Regions from separate parts of the Homo sapiens genome. Here region 1 is reported to be linked to region 2. Evidence: microRNA targets listed by miRTarBase, many of them from high-throughput screens and not tested one by one. Region 2 holds a microRNA gene; the other region holds the end of a gene's coding sequence.

What was found. Region 2 holds the annotated microRNA hsa-miR-940 (AAGGCAGGGCCCCCGCUCCCC, at 2,085-2,105, opposite strand). A microRNA usually pairs through its seed, bases 2 to 8, with sites in the 3' UTR of a target mRNA and lowers its output. Matches are read on the target gene's strand: a 7mer-m8 pairs with bases 2 to 8, a 7mer-A1 pairs with bases 2 to 7 and ends in A, and an 8mer does both.
Region 1: the mRNA of GSTCD is a reported target of hsa-miR-940. Seed matches in the 3' UTR shown: 7mer-m8 at 1,494-1,500 and 7mer-m8 at 1,940-1,946.

Annotation. Positions count from the first base shown.
Region 1 is chr4:105,844,826-105,849,175 of GRCh38, forward strand. GSTCD (glutathione S-transferase C-terminal domain containing) reads left to right here. Exons shown (of 12, transcript NM_001370181.1): 12 at 616-2,900. The coding sequence ends at 752. Among named protein-coding and RNA genes, the nearest start is that of GSTCD-AS1, 20 kb to the left of the region's middle.
Region 2 is chr16:2,269,561-2,273,910 of GRCh38, reverse strand. It overlaps MIR940 (microRNA 940), which reads right to left and starts at 2,164; the gene lies at 2,071-2,164. It overlaps MIR3677HG (MIR3677 and MIR940 host gene), which reads right to left. Exons shown (of 3, transcript NR_132988.1): 2 at 2,020-2,235; 3 at 839-924. MIR3677 (microRNA 3677) reads right to left here and starts at 3,198; the gene lies at 3,139-3,198.

The DNA of each region.
Region 1 (4,350 bases), not on the chromosome of region 2:
TTCCAAAGATTGTAAATGAAATACAATACCACTATTTTGTAGAGGGACAGGAGCTCAGAAAATTAAGAGTATACTACACTCAACATTACATTTCCACCTGAAATAAAAGGCATGTAATTGAGAATTTTCTTAAATATTTTTCATTTCTCACTTCTTCATAGCCCTAAAAAACTTCAGCTGGAAAAGCTAATGTCTTTCAGACACCACTTAATCAGCATGTTATTTTAAATATTCTTAAAGACAAATTTTTTTTCCACATTACAGATAATCTAGTTTTATAGGGAAAGCAGAGAAAAGGTCTTTAAATGTATTTTTAACCAAAGTAGGAAATACAGTCTGAGGCTCTAATTTGAGATTTGCTTATAAATACATCTGAAAAGGTTAACATTCTTTAAATTATTAGCAGAGGCAAATATATGAAGTGCCATGTTTTTGTCACCATCATCTTTCCACATTGATCAAGAAGTAAATTGAAAGAAACTAAACAAGACTTAGGGGTACAAAGCATGCTCCATAGTACTTGCAGATTTTGTCACTATATAGATTCCCTTAAACAAACTGAAACTGTCCTGCTAGTGAAAGGGTGTCTCATGATACCATTTGACTGTGTTTCAGGAAAACAGTGCATGTGCTTGGTGGATCTGGATCGAGCAAGAGCTGCAGAAGAATGTGGATACTCCGTTCAAGTGATATCCATGGAGCCAGAGAGCTGCTCTCCCAAAAATAACATGATTGTGGGAGTCCCCATTTAAAATGAGATATTCACATTTGATATTTTGCCATCCGTCTTCACGTTGGATGCCCAGTGGCATTCAGGAGGTTCTTGGCATAACTAGGAAACAGCATTAGCCATCTTGAACCTATTGTGCTCAGGAAGGAAAGCAACAGGGAAATCTTGGAAGTAAAGGCTCCCTGCAAAGCATCACAAATGCTTTACAATGTGTGATTAAAGGACTGCTGGTTTTTATAGTGAGAATCCCCTGAAGTCTCAGCTGCCAAAAGAATAATACTAGTGGAGGTTCCATCACAGGAATAACAATTTCCTTCTCACTTCACAAGCTCCTCTGATCTTGCCAATGTGATGTTTAATTCAAAACAGCGCACTTACAGCCTTTATTTTATACTTATTTAGATATTCACATGGGAACTGAAAGTAGACTCAGTGGAGTTTTTTGTTTTTTATATTTTTAACAATTGTACTTTTTCTATCACTTTAAAAAAATCTAGTCAGGTAATTATAGTACAGTTATTTTTAAGCTGGGGTTAGTTGAACTTGTATAGCATTTAATATACTCCTTTTAAATATATTTCTGCCAGGCATGGTGGCTCATGCCTATAATCCCAGCACTTTGAGAGGCCAAGGTGGGAGGATCATTTGAGCCCAGGATATCGAGACCAGCCTGCACTACAAAAAAATCCAAAAAATGAGGTGGGAGGATCACTTGAGCCCAGGAAGTCAAGGCTGCAGTGAGCCTTGATAGCGCCACTGCACTCCTGCCTGGGAAAATGAGACCCAGACTCAAAATAAATCAATGAATGAATTAATAAACAAATAAATAAATAAATAAATTTCCCATAAATTACCAAATGAGATTGTCACTGGTTCAAATTATTAAATAATTGCCATAAATTTCCTATTACGGGAATGTGGAATTTGGACATACATTTTAACAATAAGTACATTGATTAATACATTTAAGTTTATAAGTAATTATTGAGGATCCAGTATTTTCAAGACCTTGGCCTAGTTTCTTTTCAATTCAAAGATGAGTTGCAAAAGACATAATGTTTTGCCTATGGAAGTAGATCATCTAGAAGAAAAAGATTAAAGAATTAGTTAAGCTTTTTTTTTTTTTTTTTTTTGAGACAGAGTTTCACTCTTGTTGCCCAGGCTGGAATTCAGTGGCTCGATCTTGGCTCACCACAACCTCTGCATTCTCCTGCCTCAGCCTCCCGAGTAGCTAGGATTATAGGCACCTGCCACCATGCCCGGCTAATTTTGTTTGTAATTTTAGTAGAGATGGGGTTTCTCCATGTTGGCCAGGCTGGTTTCGAACTCCTGACCTCAGGTGATCTACCCGCCTCAGCCTCCCAAAGTGCTGAAATTACAGGCGTGAGCCACCTCACCTGGCCATGTTCTTTATGGAATACTACAATGTGTTGTCACAGGATTTGTTATTCAGATGTCAATCATTTTTATTTATATATTTCTGGGTAAAACTTATTAGTGGTGTGAGGAGTGCAGAATATGGAAGCTTACCTAAATTCTTTTTCTGCCAGCCAACATTTTAAAAGACAAATGATGCATCCTTTCTCAATGCTGCTAATTCTTTAAATTTTACATGTCCCAATTTATTCCATTTGAGATTTATTTTAATGTTTTCAACCCCTGTGTAACATGTATCATGAGGAGAAAGCACTATCATTGATCATCACTATGGATTAAAATATAGGAATATTTTACAGGGCAGTATGGGTGGGGGTGGGAGACATATTGGAATCGTGTTTTCTGGGATAAAATTTTTAAAAAGAATTAATCATTAGCCCTGAGTATTTTAGTCATTTGTGCCTATAGAAAACAACATGCTCTTTTATTGTGGACTTTCTTCTTTTAAGTGAGGTTTAATTTATATACAATACAATAACAGATTTTTAAGTATTCATTTGAGATGTTTTGACAACTGTATATATACATGTAACCATCACTGGAATCAGATATAGAATATTCCCCTTAAATATTGTCAGGTAAACACATTGAGAATATTTTTTCCAGTCTGTGGCTTACCTACTTATTTTCATAATGAATGTTTTACTTGTGATGAAGATTTAACTTACCCTTTTACTTTAATGATTAATATTTTCTGTGTTCTTTCTAATAAATTTTACGAACTCTGAGGTTATAAGATTTCTCCTAAGATTTTTTTTGTAGAAACTTTATGATCCTAGCTTATTACATTTAGGTCTATGATCGATCTCAAATCAAACTCACATATAAAGGCAGGTAGGTTTTGAGGAATATATAGTTGTTTCAGCATCATTAAATAAAAATCCCTTCCTCTCTTCATTGAACTGCCTTGGCACCTCAGTTGAAAATCAGTTCATCTATATGTATGGTTCTATTTCTGAATTCTCTAGTCTTTTCCATTAATCTGTTTGTTTTGATTGCTGTAGCTTTATAGTAAATCTGGAAATCAGGTAGTTTGTCTCCCAATTTTATTTTTCATTCTCTAGATTATTTTGGCTGTCTGGATCCATTGTATCCCCAGATAAATCGTAGAATTGACTTATCAATTTCTTTTTAAAATTTTACCAAAAAAGCTTGCTGGGATTTTTGATATTGCCTGTTCTCTTTAGATCAATTTGAGGAAAATGAATGTCTTAACAAGATTGAATCTTATAATCTATGAAGATATCTTTGCATGTGTTTAGGTCTCCTTTAATTACTCAGAAACATTTTGTAATTTTCTGTGTAGAAGATTTGTTTTATTTATTATGATTTTATTTTTTTGATGTTATTACCCTGAGCTTTTTACATGATGTTCCCTGTATTTAGAATAACCTCCTTTTACCCCTCCCACTAGCTTAATGTCATTCATCCTTCTGCTCTGAGACTTGACCTCCCTGGAATTAGGTATCTGTTATAAAATGTCTACCATCCAGAGTAGTCTTCTCAGTCCTCCCGAGGTGACTCAAGGTACACCCCCCCACCACCACCACCAAAAACAAAAAGCCTATCTGATGAGTATGGAGAACAAAAATAGAATGGGGAGCCGGGCGTGGTAGCTCACGCCTGTAATCTCAGCACTTTGGGATGCCGAGGCAGGTGGATCACTTGAGGTCAGGAGTTTGAGACTAGCCTGACCAACGTGGTGAAACCCTGTCTCTACTAAAAATACAAAAATAAGCCTGGTGGTGGTTGCATATGCCTGTGATCCCAGCTACTAGGGAGGCTAAGGCAGAAGAATCGCTTGAGCCTGGGAGGCAGAGGTTGTGGTGAGCTGAGATCGTGCCACTGCACTCCAGTCTGGGTGACACAGTGAGACCCTGTCTCAAAAAAAGAAAAATAGAAAGGGGACCCCATTGCTCTCCCATGCTTGATCTTGGCATGGCATTCTCCAGCTGTGATGTCTGCGGCTAGTAAGAGATATGGGTATTGTGATTGCTCTTCGGGCATTATTTTTCTATGTAAATCCTTGCCAATGCTTCTTCCCAGCCAGGGCAAATGAAAAGAGTTGGATGCAGGGAGCAGGAAGATTGTTGCAATGATAAAAGCCCAACAAGTGACCTGATCTTACCCTCACCTTTGTCCATCAAATGCAAGGCTACTGCTCACTGATCTATCTCTCCGAA
Region 2 (4,350 bases):
CCAGGGATAGGAGTGACCGGCCTATCCACGCTCCACCCTAGACCACGGAGGGGGGCCACACATTCTCTACGGACACTGTCCCCAAACAACTGTGGCATCTGACAGAGCCAACTCCTGCCCTGCTCCCAGTTCACCTTAGACCTGGGAAACGAGGTTTTGACTTCACTGCTCTGCATGGCCTGGTGCAGGGCTCCCGTGAGCAGACGGCCCATGGGCCACGAGCCAGGTATGTGGAAGAGCCTGTGCCTTCTGTCCTCCAGGCCGGCCCAGTCCAACGGCGTGGCTCAACTGAAACCACACCCAGAACTCGGAGAGGGGAAGACCTCGCGGTGGGGCGGGCCCAGGCCAAGCCCCTCCACTGCCATCACAGGTTTACAGCGGAGCAGAGGGGCAGGCCGGATACAGGCAGCCCAGGCCACAGGTCAGGGGACCCACACCAGGCCACAGGAACAGGCTTGCTGAGGGTATCAGAAAACCCCAGGTCACAGTGGTTTGAAAAAGAAGTTTATTTCTCAGCCATGTAGGCAGGAGGAGGCAGTCCAGCACTCGGTCACCTGAGGTCTCAGGGAGGCAGGCTCCATCTGCTGCCCCGTCATCCTGGTTCACGCCTCCCTCCTCATGGTCACCTCTGTGTTCAAGGAAGTGCTTGGCCGGGCATGGTGGCTCACGCCTGTAATCCCAGCACTTTGGGAGGCCGAGGCAGGCGGATCATGAAGTCGAAAAATCAAGACCATCCTGGCTAACACGGTGAAACCCCGTCTCTACTAAAAATACAAAAAAATTAGCCGGGTGTGGTGGCGGGCACCTGTAGTCCCAGCTACTCAGGAGGCTGAGGCAAGAGAATGGCGTGAACCGGGGAGGCGGAGCTTGCAGTGAGCCGAGATCACGCCATTGCACTCCATCTGGACTACAGTGAGACTCCATCTAAAAAAAAAAAAAAAAAGGAAGTGCTCAAGTTCAGGCCGGGGTAGGGTGTGTGCAGTGGCCTCCGTCAAGTGTGTGTCACCCCCAGGCAGCTCCCTGCTGCGCCTGGACCCAACTGTGCCCTTGGCTCACTCCATCTTGCTGGGTTTCCCATCTCTGTCTTACTGGCTGCTTTCAGAGACCAGGCCCAGAGTCCCCAGGACTCAGGTGACCTTGGCTACCCTGGAATCCTGGACTAAAGATCTGCAATAGAAATGTGTCCAGCAGGGAATGTAATGTGTCCAGCAGGGAACCATCCTGTTTGCTTTGCTTTTCTGAGTTCCTACAACCAACCGGCCAGGGCGCACTGTGGGGCACAGGGATGCAGGCCCTGGAGTATGGCCACTTCTGCCTGGGGGCGTCTGGGGGGTTTCCTGAGTGAGGTGGGGTCTCACCAGCTCCAGGAGACACCACTGCCATGCACAAGGTAGGTGTGGGGGTGGAGGATCACCTCCGTGAGGACCCAGACCCCACCCACTGTGGCTGTGGTGGAGACTGCAGGTCTGTCTCAAGGCCCCAGGCCTGACACCTGCAAGAACAGAACCTGGGGGTGACGGAGAGGGGATTCCACCAGGCCAGCCCGGGGCTTGAACCCCAGCCAGGGCAGCTGCTGTCTGCTGCCCCACCAGGTAACGCACCGACCCAGCTGCTGTTCAGCTCCCCCTCTGGGCCAGCACCATGCTCATGGCATAGGCCGGCTGGGCCCTCTGAGACCCCCACTCCCACACAGACTGGTCTGCATGGAGGCTGGTGCAGCCTGTGCCGTACAGACCCTGCCCGGCTGCACTACTGGCCAGAGCCCCCTGCAGACAGGCGGCTCGAGGGGAGCTCCACCATGCAGGAGATGGCCCAGCACTGCAGTCACTTAGGCTGCTCATCCCTCCCCGAACTGACATGTCCCTCCCTCCAGATGCCCCCCACCGCCGAACCCCAGCATGCTGGGCATGCTCTGGCCATCCCACACAGGGATCAGGGTGGGAGGGCTGGAGGCTGCCTGTCAGGGGCAAGGCCTCCTCCAGGAGGTAGGACGGGGTGGTGCAGGTGGGGTCCCCTCACCTGATGGGCCCTCGAGGCCAGGCTGTAGGCAGGCAGGAGGGGGCTGAAGCAGTGGGGTCAGGCCCGGGGAGCGGGGGCCCTGCCTTCCTTCCTCAACACACGGGGCTGCCCAGGCCCCGCTCCTGGGGCCGGGCCCACACCTCACAGACACTGGTGTTGGATGCTTCGGCTTGAAGGAGCTCCAAATGGACTAGCCGCAGCTGCCCCTGGGTCCACCTGGCCCAGGCAATACCACAGAATCACCAAGGCTCATCTAGCCATGGGCCCAAACCCAAGGCCCTAAGAGGCACCCCGGGTGCCTCAGTCACAGTCCCAGGCAGCTCAGGTCCCAGGCGGCTCACAGTCACCATCCTTGACTTCATGGTAGCAGAAATGGAGTGCTTTGAGCTTGTGATGAGCACAGGCTCCCAACCCTGGGAGAGTTCAGACATGCCCACTGGAGAGGCCCCAGGCCCTGATGATACCCACTCCTCAGACATGCAAACCTGGAGCCAGGGAGGCCCCAATGAACTGCATACTCTCCCAACAGACCAAGCTCACCCCACACCAGCGCAAGGCCCTTTCAGACCCAGCCTGGCCACCCCCATGGACCTGGCCAGCACCTCCCCCAGCCCCACCCTCTCCAGACAGGCACCAGGCTGTGGTGACCCGCCTCTCAGCAGCTCCTCCTCTGATGCCTCCCCACGGTCCAGTCGTTACCCCCTCGTCCACCTGACTGGGCTGCGCATGGCCTCAGTGCAGAGCCAGGTTTTAGTAGTGGGTAAAAGGGCTCCCTTGCTGTGCTTTACCAGAGAATGCAACACCCCCAAAGCTCCTTCATGACCCACTGTGACCTGCAGCACCACCAAGCCCATCCTCATCCCTGTGTCCCAGGCCACCAGCCTCTGAGGGCAGGCACTGCAGGAGCCACCGGGCCACAGAGGATGGAGGCAGGGAGGACATTCTGCCTTCATGAGGGCATGCTCTCAAAGACAGAGCCGCCCCAAACTGTCAGCAGGTGACCCTCCGCTCTGGGAAGGCAAGGGGAGGAGCTCAGGGCCGTGGCCAGAGCCCACGAGAAGCCCGTGCCCAGCTCAGCAGGTGACCCTCCGCTCTGGGAAGGTAAGGGGAGGAGCTCAGGGCCGTGGCCAGAGCCCACGAGAAGCCCATGCCCAGCACTGCAGGGCTCTGGCCACTGCCTAATGCCCTCCATGAAGCCCTGCCTGCCCTTCCAGCAAACCAGGGCCCCTGAGGCTCCAGAAACCCCAGCTCCACTGCCCTCAGCCTCCATGGCCTTAGCAGCCTGGCTCTGGGGCTGAGCTCCTGGAAGGGCAGGGTGGGGGTAGGCTCCTGAGTTTTATTTTCTCACATTTCTTCCAGACATGCTTCTGCTGATCCTCAAAATGGCAAAAGCCAGGATGCTCAATTCTCAAAGCTCAACAGCTGATGGCACATTTGATAACAAAAATCAGTAATATTTAGAAACAAATTTGATTAAATTCGTAAGTGCCTGAATAAATCATACTTGTAGATTTAATATAAAATGTGTGAAAGCTTATTCGCAGGCCAAATGACATTACTGCAGAGCATTAAAAACCAGCAGGGGGAGGGCTGTCGGCCCAGCTGGTGCTGCGTCACGCCCACCCATGTCATGTGGGGTCACCAGGCTGCCCCTGCCCACCAGGTGTCAGTGGGGCCCTGGGCATGGGCTCTAGGTTTGGGGCCTTTTAGCACCTCTGACCACTGGACTCCAATGCCACCTCAGAGAATTCCGCCTATGCCTGCCTGGACCACCGAGGCTGCCCCCTCCCCTAGCGCCGACTCTGGGGCCCCTTCAGCAGGGGGGCGGCCCCTCTGTTCCACTTAATCTTCCATGCCTGGGCACAGCAGGTGTGACAGTAATGCAGAGACTCTAACTCACTTTACATGTCATCAAACCCAAATCCAACGGGTACCCAAACCAGACTGATGGGCCTGCCAGCCTCCACCCACAGGAACACACTGGTGACTTACTGCAGCAGACTCGGGAGGTAGCTCCTCCTCCTAGCTGCCTTTGTCCCCAACTCCTTGGACATCCCTTAGCCCAGGGTGAAGGGTCAAGGGCACACTTGACACCCTCGGACAGGGCCAGAGGGAGTGGGTCTCGGCAGGAAGTCACCAAGAGCTGGCTTCCCACACAGGGAAGAGGGCAGTGATGGCAGACCACATCCCCACTATCTATCCATCCATTCACCCACCCACCCACTCCGGGTCACCAAGCTGCACCCTGTCCTTTGCTCTGACATCTAAAGTCTCCAAGTCATGCTGGTTCTCTCCTCCCAAAGATCGGCTTGGATCTGTTCCCTTCTCCCT